Homo sapiens: one gene and its partners. The protein of the gene in region 3 purifies or fractionates together with the protein of the main gene of each other region. This does not show direct contact. Each region holds a gene or a part of one and is shown on either strand. Other genes may lie near its edges.

Region 1 (4,114 bases), on a different chromosome or scaffold from region 3:
TGAGAATACTTTCTGTTATATATTTTTTCTCTTTGAATGTGACTACATTTTTAAACATCTAATTTCTGTGGAACTAATATATTTGGGTTGGTAAACATTCCTGTGAAATAAAGTATTAGTTGTTTGATTGCCCTAAATACCTAGATTTCTTGTTCACCAGAGAGCTTTTGTCAGACTTATGTTAAGTCTTGAATTGGAAGATAAAGAAATTCTGGGAAGTTTAGTGTGTTCAAATTAGTATCGTTTTGCTACTAAATCTTTTACTTTACTAAACTTATGGAACTTTTTTTTTTTTTTTTGAGATTAAGTTTCGCTCTTTTTGTCCAGGCTGGAGTGCGATGACGTGATCTCGGCTCACTGCAATCTCCGCCTTCCACATTCAAGTGATTCTCCTGCCTCAGCCTCCCTAGTAGCTGGAATTACAGGCATGTGCCACCACGTCTGGCTAATTTTGTATTTTTAGTAGAGACAGGGTTTATCCATGTTGGTCAGGCTGTTCTCAAGCTCCTGACCTCAGGTGATCCTCCCACCTCGGCCTCTCAAAGTGCTGGGATTATAGGTGTGAGCCACCACGCCCAGCAGGAACATTTTGATCTCAGAAATAAGAAAAATTCTCTCACTGTTTTTTTCTATGTGCCTTTTCAGTTTTTAATCATGCATATATAACTTTTTAGAATAATGTTTTATTCTTCTGTGTCTTCCTCATTGGACTTTACAGTTTTTGGTTATATATATCAATCGCTAAATAATGTAGTTTTATCAGAAGTATTGTATTGAACAATACAAGATATTTAAGACAATTTTTTTGTTTTACTTTGGCACTGTATGTTGTGGTCAGCATTAGTCTTTCATTTATGAACAAACAGCTCTCTTAATCATCTCTCAGTCATCACAGTCTTCTCTTATATGTTGATTTTCAGTGCCTCATTTTGCTTCCTAGCCAAGTCTTGTCAGAGATTTCCTCTTTCAGGTGGCAAAGCTGTTTTCTTCACACTTGAGTCTCTACAATATTGTTTGGATCAGTAGTTTCCAAAGTTCATTAACTCCTGGCCATACTTTATTATGTTTTGGGGTACTGGTTATCCAAGGGAAACACTTTTTTAAACAACAAAACAAAAAAACCGCCCAGCAGTCCAAAGTAATTTGTGTTCCTAAAAATGGAATATGGAAAGTTAATTTGCTTGTTTGATGTGGTCGTTGAGAAAAATACATAAAAGCTTTGATGTTTATTATGTGAGCAACCAATATAAATACAGTTTAGTTGAAAGGAACACTATTAAGGTATTGTTTCCAGGCAGAATTTCAGAAATGTAATTAATTCAGCAAATAGGTTTTTTAAAAAAGACATCCAAAGGTTATAAAATTATTTAGAAGTATTTTAGGTCTGAAGCTGTAATAGTTGACTTAAGCAATTAACTCTTCAAAGGTGAATGATGAATATGTGGTTAATTCATACTTTTGTCCATTTCTAGCTTACAAAACACTACACAGCAAAATAATGATCTGCTAGACTGCTAACCCGAGCATCCAGCTTCCACAATGCCTGTGCAGGCAGCTCAATGGACAGAATTTCTGTCCTGTCCAATCTGCTATAATGAATTTGATGAGAATGTGCACAAACCCATCAGTTTAGGTTGTTCACACACTGTTTGCAAGACCTGCTTGAATAAACTTCATCGAAAAGCTTGTCCTTTTGACCAGACTGCCATCAACACAGATATTGATGTACTTCCTGTCAACTTCGCACTTCTCCAGTTAGTTGGAGCCCAGGTAAGCATTCAAGATTTTACTATAGGTTGGTGCAAAAATAATCACTATTTTTGCCATTATTTTAACGGCTTGTCCAGCCTGCAGGCTACATGTGGCCCAGGACATCTTTGAATGCGGCCCAACACAAATTCATAAACTTCCTTAAAACATTGTGAGATTTTTTTTGTGATTTATGTTTATGTTTTTAGCTCATCAGCTATCGTTAGTGTTAGTGTATCTTATGTGGCCTTTTTTTTTTTTTTTTTTTTTTTTTTAGACAGAGTCTCACTCTGTCACCCAGGCTGGTGTGCAGTGGCGTGATCTGGGCTCACTGCAACCTCCACCTCCTGGGTTCAAGCGATTCTCCTGCTTCAGCCTCCCAAGTAGCTGGGACTATAGGCCCACATCACCATACCCAGCTAATTTTTTTTGTATTTTTAGTAGAGACGGGGTTTCACTATGTTGGCCAGGCTGGTCTGGAGCTCCTGACGTCAGGTGATCCGCCCACCTCAGCCTCCCAGGGTGCTAGGACTACAGGTGTGAGCCACTGCACCCAGCCATCTTATGTGGCTTTAATGGCAAAAACTGCAATTACTTTTGCAGCAACCTAATAATTTGTTACATGAAATAGTTATTGAACTTTATTCAGTAATAGGTATATAGTATGTTTAGTGATCATTAAGGTGTAAAAAATAAATTTCAATGTACCTGATTTTCATGATTGTATTCTGCGAAAGATTTTCTTTAGATAATGTCATATCCTTATACAAAACCTTAGATTACATTATAGTTACATATTCAATTCTGTGGCTAAAATTTATGTATATAAGTGATATTGGTGGATAAGAAATATTTTTATATAAGCATATATATTTATTCACCAGGTGATATGAAAAGAAATGTAATCAAAGCTTTGACCAGAAACAGGTTTTTTTGTTGTTGTTGTTACTTTTTTTTACTTCACTTGACTTTTTATATAATAGTGTAAATGAAACAATAAGGTCTATGTAGGGATGTATATATGGAAAACCAAAAACCAATGTGTCAGTAATAAATTCTCCATGATTTCTTCTGAACATGTGTTGTATCAAGCTTGTCTGGCTTTCAGGCCACATGCAGCCCAGGACAGCTTTGAATGCAGCCCAACACAAATTCGTAAAGTTTTTTTTTTTTTTTTTTAACTCATCAGCTATTGTTAGTGTTAGTGTATCTTATGTGTGGCCCAAGACAATTCTTCCAGTATGGCCCACGGAAGCCAAAAGACACCTCTGAGCTATGTGATGCTTTAGTTGAACATTAGGGGGGAAAAAAAAAAGAACATGTGCTATAGAATTCATGTTTGTAATTATTTTATTGAATCAAAGCAAGACTCTAGATTTGAAATAACATATTTAATGAGGGTCTACTTTGCATTAGGTTTGACAGAAAGTATTCAGCATTTATTATTACTAATTCTTACCATAGGTTTTCAGGTAGTTATTATCCCCATTTTACAAGTTAGGAAGAGATGAAATTCTGTACATCATGTGCTACATATTAAAGCCAGAAAGGAATTATTTTTCTGATTTAATAGAAAATCCAATAAACCAAAATACTTCATTCATTCCTTTAGTATCTTGATATTTGAAGTCCTCCTTGTAAAGCACAAAATCTCTTTTCAGTGTTTATAATCAAGTTACACACTATGAAATCAAGGTGCATCTACAATTGATAGTGTATCTTAATTTAATTGCCAGTATATTTTTGTTAATGGAGTATAAAATGTTGCCTCTTGCAAACAACATTTTAGATTTGATAAAATATCATAGACTTTTTGTAAGAATACTAGCTACCACCAGACACAGTGGCTTACACCTGTAATCTCAGCACTTTGGGAGGCTGAAGTGGGCAGGCTGCTTGAGGCCAGGAGTTCGAGACTAGCCTGGACAACATGGCGAAACCCCATCTCTACAAAAAATAAAAAAATTAGTCAGGCATGGTGGTGTGTGACTGTAGTCCCACCTACTTGGGAGGCTGAGATGGTGAGATGGGAGGTTCACTTGAGCCCAGGAGGTCGAGGCTGCAGAGAGCCAAGATCGTGCCACTGCACTCCAGCCTGGGTGATGGGAGTGAGACCCTGTCTCAAAAAAAAAAAAAAAACCTAGCTACCATTTATTTAGCATCTGCTATAGGTCAACAGGTATTGTGTTAATATCATTTGTAAATGTTATCTCAGTTGGTTCTTAAATTGCCTACAGGTCTTTACAGTGTGAATTCTGTTATCTCTTTTACTACTGTTCTTATTCTGCTTAAGCTACACTGGCTTCTTAGCCAGTTCTCAGATATACCAAGTATATTGCCAAGTGATGGCTTTTGTAGTTACTGT
Region 2 (3,500 bases), on a different chromosome or scaffold from region 3:
CGTTTCTGTGGCTGAAAGGCTCAGAAGCCATCTGTCCCCACAAAGCTGGGCTAGAGGAATCTGGAGAGGAGTCCTCCTCTCTGCCCCTGTCCCCTGCAGTGTTTCCCTTCACTCTCTCCGCCTATCTTCCCTTCCTTTGGGATCTTCCCTTTCCTCAACTCTTTCCTTTCCCTCCAGCTCTTTGCTTTGCTTTCTTTTGGTGGCTGTCACTCCCAGCTCTGTCTTGTTCCTTGTCTTTGTCTTTCTTCCCTTCCCCCTGCCCCTGCCCCTACCAGCCCAGCTTTGGGGACACCATCCTTCTGGGGAGAAGTAGGGGGAGGAATATTTGGATGGTCCCTCCATTCCTCTTCAGGCATCTGGAGGCCCTCTCCCCCACTCCTCCAAAGAAACATCTCAAATTATTGATGGAATGTATCCCCATTCTCAGTGAAAATGTGAGGAGGGGACTAATACTGGGGTAAAGGGTCAAACCCCCACCTTCATCACTATGGGCATTATATTTAGGGAGTAGTTCTTGGGCTGGATTTTCTGGTTGTGGAAGTGGGGGCGCCAGAGTAGTGTGTCTGCTATTTAAAGGAGCAGGAAAGGGCGTGAGGCAGGAGGAGAGACTGGTGGAGGGAAGAGCTGCTCCTCCCATGCAGTGCCCGACTCCCTGCACCCCTCTCAACCTGACCTGAACCTTTATTGAATCCTTATTAGCTTGAATCCTTATTAGCTTGAATCCTCCATGCAAATCATGGAGTCTGTGTCCCACCTGATGTGGTTGAGGAGAAGCCAGGTCTTCAAAGAGGGGTCAGCCTGGGGCAAAGCAGGACTGGGGGGAGGTGGGCAGCAGGGCCTATTCTGAGAATCACATATTGTTACAGGCCTTGCACCCCCTTTGCTGCTTCCCTCCTGCTCATTTGGGGCTGCCACCAGCTCTCCACCCTCCTGGTTCCGCTGGCCGGGCCAAGAGAGGATGGAGGGATGGGAGTCCCAGGAGATCCTTGTAAATAGTGGGGTGGGACTGTTCTGAGTGATCACCCGAGCACTTAAAGCTCCAGAGTCCCATTCTTCCTGGATGGAGCAGGTGGAGGTGCAGAGGGGATTTCCTCCTCTCCTTCCTCCTGTCGAGAATTAACACCTCTCCACAGCCTTCCCCTCCAGAACACCAGCCAGGGAGGGGTGGGGAAGGAGGTCACAGCCAAGAAAACTGCCCTGTGACGACTTCCCTCCTTCCCGCCTATGTGAGCCATCCTGAGATGTCTGTACAATAGAAACCAAACCAAATGGGCACCCTCGGTTGCCGGGGGGCAGGTGGGGAGGGGGGTGGGAAGAAGGGATGTCTGTCTGTCGTCCCCCTCCCCCTCTCCACTCTTTACCCACAAAGGCAGAAGACTGTTACACTAGGGGGCTCAGCAAATTCAATCCCACCCTTACCAATTGAGCCAAACCTAGAAACAAACACAAAACACGAATAGTGAGAGACAAAATAGAGGAGAGAAAGAGAGCATGAGAGGGAGCGAGACAGGCGACCAACACAGAGGAGAGAAAACAAAAATAGCAAAAAAAAAAAAAAAAAGCAGTTCTTTATAATTTAATATTCTATTTTAATAAAGGCGTTTATTACCATATAAATGTAGCAAAGAACCTGGGCTAATATGAAAAAAAAAGACTTTTTATTAGGTAATTTATTATATGAAAAGGATATTTTATTTTATGATAAAGTGATCCTTAAAAAAATAAAAAAACTTTAGAAGGTTTAGAATATATGTAGGGAGAGAAGAAGAAAAAAATACATTTGTATTCAGAGTTAAATCTTAAAAAAAAAAAGTGTTTTTAATATATGTTTGGGTTTACGTTGCTTTTTTCCCCCACTTTTTTTTTGGGGAGGAATGTCATTTGCTTTTCTTGGGGGAGCATCCCGGGGGTGAATGGTGGAGAGAGGAGCTGGGGGAACCCGGTCCCTCCTGGGACCCTTCCAGTAGATTGGATTTCACTCCATGGACTCCTCCTCCCCTCTCCCCCTCCCCCTCAGGGGAGCCGGCAGAGCCAAACAAAGAAAGGGATTAACAAGAAAGGAAGAAGCTGTAGGACTAAGGACTGAGGATCCTGGGGTGTCCCCCACCACTTTCCCCTGCCCTGTCGCAGGGGCAAGTGAGGAGGGGGAATCCAGAATTAAGGCCTAGCAGGCCTATAGGAACCCTCAGAGATGTGTGAGATTTAAGAGATCTAGATTTTTTTTTAACCAAAAACAAGAGAGAAAGAGAAGAAAAAGAGAAACCGAGGGGTTTAAAAGAAAAGAATACTACAAAATAATAATTATTAATAATAATAATTCAAATTTATTTCATATAATCCTAGAGAGAGAAAGAAACAATTACTAGTTACTTAGTAGACAATATTAAGATAGCTTAAAGTTTAGTAGCATTGAGGGCCCCTGGGTCCAGTAGAATGTATAAAAGTTGTAAGGAAAAGATAAATAGAGGAGGGAAGTGGCTGAGTCCACCCTGAGTTGCCCAATCTTCAGATACCAGGGTTGGATCAGGTTGCTAGTTTAAGATTGGGAGCTTCCAGTCTGCTGGGGTTGATTCTGAGAATCCTTGGATTTTTAAATTGTAGGACAAAGAAATGAGGGGTTCATTTCCCAGGGTCTTGGAAAGGATGCACACTGATCATCTCAATAAGACAGGGGCTGGGTTGGGGGCAGCAGAGGAGGCCAAGCACATTCACCTGCACCCCTAGTACCTGGGCAGCCCATACTCCAATGTGGTATGTCCCCTCCTGGGGCTCCCAGCTCAAACCCTCCCATGCCTGCTTCCCCCAGGCCTAACTGAGGAAGTCCTTCTTGAAGTGTGACCTCGGTCCACTTCTCTACAGATTGATTTAAGAGCCTGGGAAGTCATTCCACAAACAGACACACATGCACACACGCTTCTCACCTTCAGAGCTTCAAGAGCACTGAGGCGATCAGTCCCCTACCCCTGTTCCCATCCAGCTTTCCACTTAGCTTTGACCTCCATGGCAGCAGTAGCAGTAACAATCTCAGTAATTGTTCTTTAAAGCTGACTCGTTCTTCACCTACTTGCAAAGTGCTTTCTTGTCTCATAAAAGTTAGATTCCAAGAAGGACTTCCCACGGAGTGGAGTGGAAACACTGTCCTTGAAGGCCTGGGAGAAAGGCATCCCCATGGGCACAGAGGCTGGGGAAAGGCACAGGGACTTTGGGTGACCCTAACCCTGACCCTCTGCTCCAGTTCACCTCCATCTATATGTGTTCAGGTAGGGGTCATCTACTGTACCCTGGCCTGGGAACACATTGCCCTCCCCACACAAAACTGGAGGGCTTGGCTTCTGCGTGTGAGAAATCAACATTTTTAAAGCACTTGCCTTCTACCAACCCCAGCTTGCAATCACTGGGCCTTCCCCTCCTATCCAAGGGGTTGGAGGGGCCCCTTGGCTCTCCTTTTGGCAGGAGGAGCCTGCTTCATTACACCAATGACTCTGCCATCCCCCTCCCTG
Region 3 (4,649 bases):
CTGTGAATAGGTGTTTCTGATCCCTAGGCTGGTTGCATCCCAACCCAGAGCAGGCAGCCTTCGGACTTCTAGCATGGGCTGGCCTCAGGACATGGAGCCAAAGCAGGCAGACCTGGCCCTGCCCTCAAGCTCCCAAGCTAAAGAGAGCCTGGCCCTCCCTCCCACTAGGTTTCTCCAGAGCCTGCTGCCTCCTGGTTTGGGCTTCTACTCTATTCTTCCCCCACAGACTCCCTGCAATTTACTGCATCACCTCTAGACTAGCAATTACAGATGGAGCTCAGAACCTACTTCCTGAGCCTTCCTAATCTCAGCAGCCCTGACAGCCACTTCCCTCTTAACACTAATGCAGCTGCTTATTCTGCTGACATTAAGGTCAGGGCCTGGTCCAAGGAAGAGGACAGGTACAGCCCAAGCTTTGCACTTGAACATCCATGCTTCTGACCACCTGCCCTGTGACGCTGGCTCTGTGCCCCAGTCCAGAAAAGACTTCTGCCTACTCCTCCTCTGCCCTACCCAGTTAACTCCCTTTCCTTCCCTCCCTTCTGCTTCTCACTCCTCCCCTCCCTTCTCTTCTTCTTCTCCCCTTCCCCCATCACCTGGGGCCCGATTCAGCTGTGCCCAGCCCTTACTCTGAGTGCCCACAGATGGAGCCTCCAGTAGCTTCTGTGGGGCACCCTTCCACCAGGTCCCAGCTCCCTTGGCTCCAGCAGTGTCCATGCTAAAGCCTCCAAGTGTCATGTTGGAGAGAATGGTGGTCACAGTAGATAAGCCCAAAATGCCTTACAGTTTACAGGCTGGAGTCAGGCCCCGCCACGTGCTGGCTACATGACTTCCCTGAGATTCCATTTCCTCCTCAGTAAAATAAGTGGTAAGATTTTAGGATCCCCAGCACTAAAAAGAAACGAAATACTGATACAGGCTCCAACATGGATGAATTTTGAAAGCATTACTATACTAAGTGAAAGAAGCCAGTCACAAACAAGCACATATTGGATGATTCCATTTCTAGGAAGTGTTCAGAACAGGCAAATTTATAGAGACAGAAAGTAGATTGATTAGTGGTTGCCTGAGGCTGGGGAGCGGGGGAAGGGAGGTGACTACCAATGTGTATGGAGTTTTTCCAGGGTGAGAGGGTGATGAAAATGTTCTAAAATAGATTGTGTTGATGGTTGTGCCACTCAGAATATACTAAAAACCATTTGAATTGTGCACTTGAAACAGATGAATTGTACGGTATGTGAATTCTATATCAATAAATCTGTAATTTAAAAAAAAAAAATTAGGTCGGGTGCAGTGGCTCACACCTATAATCCCAGCACTTTGCCAGACTGAGGCAGGAGGATCACTTAAGCCCAGGAGTTCAAGACCAGCCTGGGGAACACAGCAAGACCTCGTCTCTACTAAAAAATTTTAAATTACAAAAAAAAAAAGTAAAAAAAATAGAATCCTAATAGTACCTATCTCATAGGATTGTGGAAAATAGTAGTAATGTATGTAAAATATTTAGCACATAGTAGGCACAAAGAAATGACATTATTATTAAGAGACCTGGGAGAGCTGTGCCCAGCCTATCGTGGGAGGCCTTGACCTTTGGACTCAAAAGTGGCAGCAGGTCCACCCCCCCATACACCCTTGTCACCAAGGAAGCGTCCACAGCTTAAAGGAGCTATATTAAAGCACCCCAAGTCAAGAGGACTGAACCAGATCTGGAACTCACTCACCTCCCCTCTCACCTCACTGCCCTCACCAGCCAGCCTCTTGTCAAGTGATCAGGCTGTCAACCAACTTCTCTAGGATAAGGTTTCAGGTCAGCCCGTGTGTATAAGACCAGTGCCAAGCCAGAAGCAGCAGAGACAACAGTGAATGACAAGGAGGGGCCATCCAATCCCTGCTGCCACCTCCTGGGATGGAGCCCTAGGGAGCCCCTGTGCTGCCCCTGCCGTGGCAGGACTCACAGGTAAGACCCCTTTCTCCTCCCTCATCCCTTCCCCTCTCCCTCTCCCTTCTCCTTGTTCTCCCTTTCATTGGAGGCTTTCAGAGAGCAGCCCCGAGCAGTCAGGGCTCACTAGCTGCAGCTTGTCAGACCTGATAGAGATTCAGTCCAGCCGCCACCTTATGAAAAGGGAGCTGTGGCCTTGATGAGGGTACTGTGGCAGGGCTGGGGCTTGAACCCAACACCCGTGTCACTCACTCAAGACTCACACCCCCTTTGCCTTGCTGGCTGCCTCTGGTGGGATTTTGCAAATCCCCATAGACAGGAAGTGGCTTTCTTCTTTGCCTGCCCCAGAATCTCTGCGATTCCTCCAGAGCATAAATCCCTCTCTTTCCATGAGGACCCTGGGGCCCTCTTCCTGAGTAGGGATGACAGGGGCACTTCTGACCTGAGGCGTGGTCCAGGTCATTTGCTGGGAGCTTTACAGAGCCCATGGTCTCTGCCCAGACGGCTTCTTCAGTGGGCTGCTGTGAAGGCTTTGCCGGGAGGGTGGGTTGGAGTTGGGGAGGCAACTGGTGTTGGGTAGGATGTCTCAAAATGGGGTCCTCTTCCCCTGCTTCAGAGCTACCACAGGGAGTTTTCCTAATGCAGATTCCTAGGCCCCACCCCAGACCTAAATCAGGATCTCTGGGGCTGAGAGCTGAGAATCTGCTCTGTAAACAAGCAGCTCAAGGGATCCTTGGCTCTCCCTGAAGTCTGAGACTCTCTGGGCAGTGAAACAGGCGCAGCTTCAGATGTCAGACAAACGTGGGCACCAATCTCAGCTCCAGCACTTCAGCTGTATGACTAGCAAAAGCCCTGGAAGCCTCAGGTCCCTGGTTTACGAAATGAGAATAATAATAGCAACTACTTGTAGCCTTATGAAGGGATCAAATCAGTCAGTGTCTGTAAAGCCCTCAGCACGGTATCTGGTGCAAGAAGCAACCAGCAAACATTAATGGACCATGCTGACTAGAACATCCCATCCCTCAGGAGCCCCAGCAGAGCTACAGTAATGAGGGTTCCACTTTTGACTTCTTCCTCCACTGGCCAGTGGCAAAAGGCTGCCGGCTGCTAGGGGTCTAGGAGAGTCTGGAGTGAATTGGGAAGAAGATTGGGGAGTGCTGGCCTCAAGGCACCTCCTACCTGTGCCCACCACTGTGGCTTTCCCTCCTCCCGCAGCTTGACTACTGAAAGTTCTAGAGCCCCAAGGTGGGCTTTTGACCTGAGTCTGTGTCCATCCATTCCATTTTCCATGAGTGGCTAAGAACTGCCCCTCTTGTCAAGTGATCACGCTGAGGCCAAGAGTTCAAGACCAGAATAGGCAACATAGAGAGACCCCCATCTCTACAAAAAATAAAAAATTAGCTGGGTATGGTGATGCACACCTGTAGTCCCAGCTACTCGGGAGGCTGAAGGTGGGAGGGTCACTTGAGTCCAAGAGGTCAAGGCTGCAGTGAGCCTGGATTGCACCACTGCACTCCAGCCCAGGTAACAGAGTGAGACCCTGTCTCAAAAAAAAAAAGGAGGCAGTTTGATATTGGGGAGAACAGATGCCTGAGCCTCGGTTTCCTCATGTATACAGTGCAGGTACCACTATCAGCTCTGCCTACCCCTGGTAAGGAGGGGAGGGAGAGGGTCAGGAGGAGGATTGCAAAATTCAAGGGATAGGAACGTGACCTGTTTTTATAGGCCAAATTCATGCAGCTTAAGTATGGCACCACCCAGGCTTCTCCCTTTCTAAAGCCCCTCCTGGGTAAGGAAGAGTTCCTGGGAGCCAGGCCAGACATCACTCCATCAGCCTTCTCTGGCCTGTCTCCTGCAGCCCCACCGCTGCACTGAAGCCCAGGGCTGTGGAGCAGCCTCTCTCCTTGGACCTCCTCTCGGCCCTAAAGGGACTGGGCAGAGCCTTCCAGGACTATGGTTGGACTGAAGCCTTCAGACGTGCCTCCCACCATGGCTGTGAAGTTCCTGGGGGCAGGCACAGCAGCCTGTTTTGCTGACCTCGTTACCTTTCCACTGGACACAGCCAAGGTCCGCCTGCAGGTAGGTGCCCTTTGGCCAAGGGTCATTGATCACATGGAAGGAGGGGCTAGTTCTCTCCCATATCCCCCATGACGTGTGCCCACATGCCCTTCCTCAGAACCCTGACAAAGACTCTCACTCCACTGCTTAGGACCCTTCCTTGCCTCCTCCCATCACCATCCACCAGGACAAAAAAATCTAAATTCTTTGCATGATGTGACAGGGCCCTTTATGGGCTAGGCCCTACTTTGTAAAGCATGCAGTGTGAGGTAAAAGTAAGGAATTAACTGTGTGACCTTGGGCAAGCCACGAAGCACTTATAAAATGGGAAAAACAATCTGTCCCTCTGATTTACTCTGAGGATCAAACACCAAGCCATGTGTATAATACTGCTTTGTGAATGGTAAAATGCTGCGCAGACACCAGTGATTTCTACTGTGACCAGCATGGTTGTTCTCAGGCCCAGCCCAGGCAGGCCCAGCCCCAGCAGGGTTCCTGTGCACGCAGCCCCTTCTTGCCTTCCCATCTGAGTCCTCACCCCCTGCTATTGTCCCTCAGATCCAGGGGGAGAACCAGGCGGTCCAGACGGCCCGGCTCGTGCAGTACCGTGGCGTGCTGGGCACCATCCTGACCATGGTGCGGACTGAGGGTC
Region 4 (4,114 bases), on a different chromosome or scaffold from region 3:
ATGGTGGGCTCAAGATATTTGTTATAGTATCCTCTTCACTTTTTTGAAATTTTTAAAAGAAAACCAAAACAGTTAACAGACCACTGGTAACTTAATGTCCCCAAGAACCATAGAGGGAGAGGCCAGACTGCAGGCGTAAGCGGGGAATGTAAGGTCCAGCGGGGTAGACAGCCCACATTCCTGAGCCACCTGCTGGGGCCTCCCACTAGGGAAGAGTCACAGACTCCTCATACTTCACTAATCCATCAGGACAACCCCACTCGGAGACATAAATAATCTACCCAGGGTGCCAGGCAAGTAAGGAGAGAAACCAGGACTTGGACTTATGATTCTCTGGCTCCAAAGTCAGAAGGATTGAAGAAAGGATTTTTTCACATGAGGAGACTTAAGCTAGTGGCAGGAAACCACTAGAGAGAGAAGATGAAGACACAGAACAGAGAAGGGCAGGCAGTGAGTGACGGAGCCGGGTTTTGGAGAAGATGGGAAAGAAAAGAAAGGCCGGGCATGGTGGCTCACGCTTGTAATCCCAGCACTTTGGGAGGCCGAGGCAGGCAAATCACGAGGTCAGGAGTTCGAGACCATCCTGGCCAACATGGTGAAACTCCATCTCTACTAAAAATACAAAAATTAGCTGGGCGTGGTGGCGCGAGCCTATAATCCCAGCTACTTGGGAGGCTGAGGCAAGAGAATTGCTTGAACCAGGGAGGCGGAGGTTGCAGTGAGCTGAAATCACACCACTGCACTCCAGCCTGGTGACACAACGAGACTCCATCTCAAAAAAAAGAAAAGGGAAAAGAAAGGCTCCATCAATGGCTCGGCAAAGAGAGGGTAAATGACGCACGGTACTCACTGTAACTTCAGCATAATCTGTTGGCATGTGAATTTGTTTTCCATTTTCCTTGTTTGACTGACTGGCTATGTCTTCACTTTTTTCATTTTTTTGACTCTTGAGCCATAGTTCGTAAAATTGCTCCATATCTTGTACTAAAGAAAAATGAATTACTTTCAGCAGCAGCAACTAAACTCCATTTAAATACATGCAACTATGTGCATATTTTGTAGCAGTCAGCATACAGTTCAAAAGAAACTCAAGGGGGCTGAAGGAGACTATTATATTAGACATGGAGAGATCACCCAGTTCAAGCAGCAGGTAAACTCTCACGCATAAGAACTACTTTCAGGACTGTTAGATGGCAAATATTAGTTCTCAGGATTAATTAACCCCTCCCTGCATTTGCACGACACTTTGGGGATGTTTAAAACTCAGAAACCATTATAAACAGTATTGTCACAAAAGCCTCACCACTGCCTCTGTCGCCCTACGTTCCACACTCAGTGTCAGAGCTAGAACCACACAAGGCTACTTACGTGGCTTGGGGGACTTGGAGCTGATACACTCCTCACTGCTTACTGAGAAAGATGAGAAACATACTACTACTGGACCAAGATTCTGACCCTGATGGGAGTCCATCAGTCAAGCCACAGTCCCAGAGGGCGGATATGCTGGGCTGCAACTGACAAGACAACCATGACCAAGTCCTGGGCAGTGGCTGCCAGTTGCTTCCTATGGTAAGAACAGGTGTATTCTGCATTATTGCCAAGTGCTAAAGCTGAGGTTTCTCAGCCTCCATGTGGTTGACATTCTGGCTAGAGAATTCTTTGCTGGGGGTATGCCCTGTGCATTACAGGATGGTGAGTAGCATCCCTGGCCTCTGCCCACTAGATGCCTGAGCAACTTCTGCCAGTCATGACAATGAAAATATCTCCAGACATTGCCAAATGTCCACAGGGAAGGGGAGTGGCAAAATTTGTTCCCAGCCGGGCACGGTGGCTCACGCCTGTAATCCCAGCACTTTGGGAGGCTGAGGCGGGTGGATCACAAGGTCAGGAGATCGAGACCATCCTGGCTAACACGGTGAAACCCCGGCTCTACTAAAAATACAAAAAATTAGCCGGGTGTGGTGGCAGGCGCCTGTAGTCCCAGCTACTCGGGAAGCTGAGGCAGGAGAATGGTGTGAACCCGGGAGGCGGAGCTTGCAGTGACCCGAGATCACGCCACTGCACTCCAGCCTGGGTGACAAAGCGAGACTCTGTCTCAAAAAAAAAAAAAAAAAAAAAAAAAAAAATTTGTTCCCAGTTGAGAACCACTGTGCTAAAAACTCTGGTAATGAGGACCTGGTTAAAACTTGGCTTTGTTGTCTGCCTAATGGTTTCTAACAATGTATCATCAGGCAAAGATTAGAGATAAACTAGAAATGCTTCTTCCTTAAGACCAGTGGTGGCAGGAGTCATTGCAAAAGCCTGGTGCGCAAGGGCATCTTCAGTCAGGCCGGACTACATAGCCTCACTCCCAGCAAGACAGCTAGAGGGAATCCCGTCCACACACCACTGACGATCTATGTGGTTGAAACATGGCAGGCAACAGTCAAATCTGGTTGGTTCTTATAATCCAGAGACTGCAGTCAGTATACCTTTCATCAGTTTACTTAAGATTAAAGAATAATGATCCTTGTAGTAAAACATTTTATGGTCAAAAGTGAAAGGCTGTCTGCGGCTCCTCTCAAAGGCTCCCACAATAAACTTGGAATTTGACCAAAATAAACATTCTTTCCTTGGACCTCTGATTCTGAGCCTGTTTGATTAGTAATGCCTCCCTGAAGAAACTGCCAATTCTAACCTGGTTAATTCAGAGGGCAAACTATTTCCAATACGAGCAGATGATCTGATTTAAACAGTCAAGGGAGTACTGAACTTCCCCAGGCCATTTTTTAGGAATACATCTATTACATGTAAGGATGCATGCAGACCTATATATTTATATCCAAATCTGACCTAACCAAACACAGATCAGACGCCACATTCTACCCCACTGAGGCTGTGCCCACATTTTCCAGGCATCATCGCCAACAGAGCTACTGATGAAACGGGGCAACCGTTTAGAATGCAAACTGCTTTCTGTGTTCACAGGAAGCTGGCATATTTATAGAGAGGAAAAGAACTTTCAGGCAAGCTAGCTCAAGGACACAGCTAAAAGATTAACTTACTCCCATTCTCCTTCATGTAAGTCCAAACTTCTCTTTCCTCAGGACTATGAGCAAAGGAACAGTTTCCAACATATTGACATTTTTTCCCAGAAGCAATATGGTTGCACAGCTGTATAAAAAAATAGGAATATGATTAAGACAAAGTACACCTAGTAAAACGGCCTAATTTTTACATTTAAGCAAAAGAAGCATTATTATCCATGCTAATACTTAGTAATCAAATTCTAAAGTAAGATTAATTTGACTCTACTCAAATTAACTATATGCTCTAAATATATGAAATGATATTAAGGTTTCTATCTCAAAATTTTTCAAAAGAAAATGTCCAAAACAGAGTAAAGCATGGAACATTTTCTTACAAGAAAATGTCTACAAACTCACTTACTCAGAACATTTAATCTCCACAATGAACATCCCTGGCCCTCTCAGTCTGACAGCTCCTGTTTCCCTGCCCAACACTAATGATTCCTCCACATCAGCACTTGAAAGCAGTAAAGAAACTGCAGGCTACTCCAAAGGGTACTGAACAGTGCCCAAAACATTTCAGAAATTTAACTTACTTATAACCAGTACTGGAAACTAACCTCGGCCATAATTCACTACATATGCATTATCAGAAGACAATTATCACACTAGCCATACCATGGAGTTACACAGCTTTCAAATAATACCTCTTCAGGTTATTTGTATTTTTATTTAACAAAGTAAATACAGTGATACTGGTAGGAAAATAAAGTGATCGTGATCAGCAGAACGCAGACTTCCCTAAGAATTATGAGCCAGGAACCAAGAAAACCTCCATCACGGAGAATGCATTCTTGAATACCATCAACCTACTTGTCTGTATGAGGTATAAATCCTAGTACAACTAATTATTAGCTTATCTTAGTTTGTGCTTCAACGGCAGCTGGCCCTACATTATTTAGCTTACGTGGCATTAAATGCTTAGCATCTGTCACGTTTTTCAGAGTTTTGGCTAAAACTCGCTCAGCCCCCTTAACACTGTACATTTCCTCCCTTGGACCAATGTCAGTGACCCCACCCTTAAAATCTTCTGCATAAAGTCAGTA
Region 5 (4,114 bases), on a different chromosome or scaffold from region 3:
GACGGCCTTCGGTGCCAGGAAAGAATTAGACCCAGAATGCAAACCCAAAACGGGGGTGGGAGGGCCTTCAGCACCTACCAGCTCAGCAAATGCCAGCCACGGTATCCCTGGTGCCCCCTGCCTAGGAGGCAACGTTCTTGGGGGCCCCACCCAGGAGAAGAGCCCCCACTAACCTTTCACAAAGTAGTCCCTGTTGGGCCCAATGAGCGCGTTGTAGGGGTAGCCGTAGTAGGCCAGTGTGTAGGGGTCGCAGGAGTACACGTAGCTGGGCTGCTGCGCTGCCTCAGCCGCGCCGCCGCCCCTGGCTGCCTTCTGGTAGCGCGAGTACTGCTCCTTGTCCACGGGCTTGGCCAGCGTGACCTCCAGGCACGAGCCCTCCAGCTCAGTGCCGTTGAGGTTGTTCATGGCATGCACGGCATCCTCGCGGCTGGTGAAGTGCACGAAGGCGTAGTCGCGGATCTTCTTGACGCGCTCCACGCAGCCGGGGTTGAACTGGCCGAAGCTCTTCTTGATGGTGTCCTCGGTGGTCTCGATCATGAGGTTGCGCACGTAGAGGATCTTCACGGTCTCCATCACGTCCTCGTCCACGTCGATCTCAGGTTCGGCCCAGTCCACGGCGATCTGGTGGCCCCACAGCTGGATGCGGCCAGGCATGAGCTTGCGGCGAGCCATGGCAGCCGCGCGGTGGCTCTCGTACTCCACGAAGGCGAAGCCGCGGTTCTTCATCTTGTCGGCCGCGCTGGCGTAGACGATCACGTCCAGCACGCCCTCGGTGACCTTGGCAATCTCCTCCAGGATTTCCTCGCGCTTCTTCATCTTGGGGATCCCGCCGATGAAGAGGCGGCAGTTGTCCACGCTGCAGCACACGCCGAGCAGGCGGCCCGGGCGGATCTCGTAGTTGTTGAGCTCACGCACTGCGCGCTTGGCCTCGTGCTTGTGGCAGTACATGACGAAGGCGTAGCCGCGGTTCTTGCCGTCAAAGTCCATCATGAGGCGCAGCTCGTAGATGCGGCCCACGGCCTCGAACACGGGCACCAGCTCGTCCTCGTACACGTCGCGCGGGATCTTGCCCACGAAGACCTCGCAGCCACGCTGCGGGTGCGGGCCCTCCCAGCCGGGCGGTGGGCCGCCGTACTTGCGCTGCCCGTTCTCTTGCACCATGCTGTAGCCCGTGCGCTCCATCAGCGCCAGCAGTGCTGCCTCGTTGGGCGCGCCCGCCACGCCCTCGGGCACCTTGGCGGAGGACCCGGCGGCCGAGTCACTGCTCATGGCTGCGGTGGAATCCTCTGCGGTCATAATGTCAAAGGCATCCACAGCTGGCGGAAACCTGGGGAAGCAGAAAGAAGCGTGAGTGGGGAACCGCTGGATCTTGCCTCTTTTGGGTTGTGTTTCGCAGCCTTGCAAGTATGCATTAATAGGCCACGGGGAAGGGGAGGTGGTTTAAATGAGAAATAGGATGGAGGCGTTCTGGAAATGCAGCAGCCCTACATTTGTCTAAAATAGTCAAGTTGTCTTGCAGCAAAAACCAGAAGTGAGTTAGGAGAGAAAAAAAAAAATCAGAATGAGCAAGTACTTCCATTTCATCAGTACCCCGACAGCTTTGAAGTTTTGCGAAGCTGCTCTCATTTTTGGTAAAAACCTCACGTTCTTTTGCTTCATTCCTGCACCGTTAACTCCACCTGATTTCCTTGTTATATGGAATTTGACAAACTCCATGTATTTCTTTGGTGAACACAGCTTTCTTCTTTTCTTTTTTAAGGGAGTCTTTTTAATTGTAGGAATGGAAATACAGTGAAGATTTTAAATTATTAAAGAAAACTTTTAGGAGCTGTCATTGTATAGAGAGAGCTGTGTATTAAAGCTTTTTACAAGGAAGAAATGAAATGTGCACATTGCCACGGGCTTGGTCCAGGAACTGTAATAAGAGCTAATCTGATTTTGATGGTGGCATTCAGGTAAAATTCTTGGTGTGAAGCATTCAAAGATTTGGAATCAGTCCTTGAAGAGCTAGACTGACTTCAAGCTGGGGGACTGGGAAGCAGCATCTACCTGGTAAACCACACTATTGTTTTCAGAGAACTGTCACCTGCATTCTCTTAATTTTCTTAACCTCTGTATATGGTACATGGTATTATCCTCAGTCCCAATTTGGTCATGGGGAAATAGGCTTAGGTTGAGTAAACTGCCCCATTTCACACAGCAAGTGTCAGCTTGTAGGCAGACTTGATTCCAAGTTTTCTGGCTCCAGATTCCCTGTTTTTTCTTCCAAACCAATGCTGGGCAATCGAATTTTCTATGATGCTAGAAAAGCTGTCACTTGCCACATGTGGCTACTGAGCACTTGGAATGGGGCTAGTGTGACTGAGGAGCTGGATTTTAAATTTTAATTAAACAGCCACGTATCACAGTGCAGGTCTGAACTGTGCCGCCTTCACTTATATGGCCAAGGGCTCTGTGGAAGTGATTCTAAATTATGCAATAAGATTATTACGATGAGCTGCAGACTATACTTCTGTAATGAAAGGCTCCAATTCGCCTTTTAAAAAATGAAATCTATTTCATTTTTTGGACTATAAAAGTATTCAGTTAAATTTATAGAAAGTTAAGAAAAGTACATAAGAAATTATTCCTAATTTTCCTACCCAATGATAGCACAATGAAACTTTCTCATCTGTTTTCTAGATGTTTTCTTGAGGAGGTGGGAGGGGGAAGCCTGGCTTCCGCCTAATTTACATGGTGCTACTTTATGTTATAAGCATTCCTCTGTATTCTTAAAAATCTTTGTAAAAACATCATTTTTAATGGCCATATAAGGTTTCATCAATTAATTAGAACCCGGAGTATCATTCATTTTTTAAAATTTAGGACTAGGAGATGTATACAAGAATATTAAGGGAAATTTCAAGGATAATAAAAATGAATTTGATCATTGAAGGAAAAAATAAAACTATAATGAAACAAAATAAATCTGAGCTATTTATTTGCCAGATGGCCAAAATAGTCCTTTTGTGGTTAATTTGCTCTAATATCAAGCGGCAGTACAGTTTAGCAGGTAAGTATGTGGCTTCTGGAGCCAGACTGCATATGTTTGTTTGTGAATCTCAGCTCTAATACTTGCTAGTGTTAGCTGCTCCATGCCTCACCTCAGTTTCCCTACCTATAAAATCAGAATGATAATAATAGTATTAACCTCATTAAGTTTAGAGGAGTGAGTTAATACATACACAGCATTTTGAATGGTGCCTAGAATATTATAAATGCTCAAGAAATGTCAGTTATTAATTTCATCCAAACTTTTGAGTAAAATCTTAGACCAATTCTTTCAATTTTAGAGTAATTCTTAAGATAAACATCTTCAGTTCTTTAAAAATATCTGTTACACGTGGCTTCTATTCTTATTATTTTTTTCCTCTTCAAGTGCTTGGAAGCTGGTTTGACGTCTCCAGTTATCATGAAATTTTTTTGTAGTATACTTGGAAAATTAGTTTCTGTAGTTTCAAGTTGAAAAACATTTTTTTTTCTTTTTTTAAAAATAGAGATGGAGGGCCAGGCAGAGTGGCTTGTGCCTGTAATCCCAGCTCTTAGGGAGGCAGAGGTGGGAGGATTACTTGAGCCCAGGAGTTTGAAACCTGCCTGGGCAATATAGAAAGACCTCGTTCTCCACAAAAAAAGGAACCAAAAAAAAAAAGATCCCAATTAAAATAGAGATAGAGTCTCACTATGTTACCCCAGCTAGTCTCAAACTCCTGGGCTCAAGTAATCCTCCTGCCTCAGCCTCCCAAAGTGCTAGGATTACAGGCATGAGCCACCACACCCAACCAAGAAATTTCAACATTAAATCTGAACATGAAGACCTTTCCCTTCTTCCAAATGGAAGATAAGGATATATTTTTAAGAGGACTATTTGCATAAACACCCATGTAGTTACAATCTGTGACCTAGGCAGGAAATGCCAGGTACATATATAAATACATAGGAGACAATTCAAGATCTTACCTGTTGTACTGTATACAACATTAACTGACTAAAGTCCAAGGGAATAGAACTTATCTCTCTGCTGAGATAGGTGGAGTTGCCTTCCTGTCACCCTAACTGTGCTTTGAAACTACTATTC

Evidence for each region.
Region 1: the proteins of UCP3 (region 3) and RC3H2 purify together in Homo sapiens (affinity purification with mass spectrometry, with the first as the bait; one large-scale study listed by BioGRID). This does not show direct contact.
Region 2: the proteins of UCP3 (region 3) and MEX3A purify together in Homo sapiens (affinity purification with mass spectrometry, with the first as the bait; one large-scale study listed by BioGRID). This does not show direct contact.
Region 4: the proteins of UCP3 (region 3) and ZC3H7A purify together in Homo sapiens (affinity purification with mass spectrometry, with the first as the bait; one large-scale study listed by BioGRID). This does not show direct contact.
Region 5: the proteins of UCP3 (region 3) and RBM47 purify together in Homo sapiens (affinity purification with mass spectrometry, with the first as the bait; one large-scale study listed by BioGRID). This does not show direct contact.

Annotation. Positions count from the first base shown.
Region 1 is NC_000009.12:122,894,935-122,899,048, reverse strand, and holds part of RC3H2 (roquin-2), read left to right. Parts: intron 1-1,472; 5' UTR 1,473-1,539; coding exon 1,540-1,770; intron 1,771-4,114. UniProt on the Homo sapiens protein: Post-transcriptional repressor of mRNAs containing a conserved stem loop motif, called constitutive decay element (CDE), which is often located in the 3'-UTR, as in HMGXB3, ICOS, IER3, NFKBID, NFKBIZ, PPP1R10, TNF and in many more mRNAs.
Region 2 is NC_000001.11:156,072,466-156,075,965, reverse strand, and holds part of MEX3A (RNA-binding protein MEX3A), read left to right. Parts: 3' UTR 1-3,500. UniProt on the Homo sapiens protein: RNA binding protein, may be involved in post-transcriptional regulatory mechanisms.
Region 3 is NC_000011.10:74,006,286-74,010,934, reverse strand, and holds the start of UCP3 (putative mitochondrial transporter UCP3), read left to right. Parts: upstream 1-1,849; 5' UTR 1,850-1,957; exon of another isoform or gene 1,958-3,797; 5' UTR 3,798-3,892; coding exon 3,893-4,018; intron 4,019-4,555; coding exon 4,556-4,649. UniProt on the Homo sapiens protein: Putative transmembrane transporter that plays a role in mitochondrial metabolism via an as yet unclear mechanism.
Region 4 is NC_000016.10:11,755,387-11,759,500, forward strand, and holds part of ZC3H7A (zinc finger CCCH domain-containing protein 7A), read right to left. Parts: intron 3,154-4,114; coding exon 3,045-3,153; intron 985-3,044; coding exon 851-984; intron 1-850. UniProt on the Homo sapiens protein: May be a specific regulator of miRNA biogenesis. Binds to microRNAs MIR7-1, MIR16-2 and MIR29A hairpins recognizing the 3'-ATA(A/T)-5' motif in the apical loop.
Region 5 is NC_000004.12:40,437,598-40,441,711, forward strand, and holds part of RBM47 (RNA-binding protein 47), read right to left. Parts: intron 1,328-4,114; 5' UTR 1,297-1,327; coding exon 174-1,296; intron 1-173. UniProt on the Homo sapiens protein: Single-stranded RNA-binding protein that functions in a variety of RNA processes, including alternative splicing, RNA stabilization, and RNA editing. Functions as an enzyme-substrate adapter for the cytidine deaminase APOBEC1.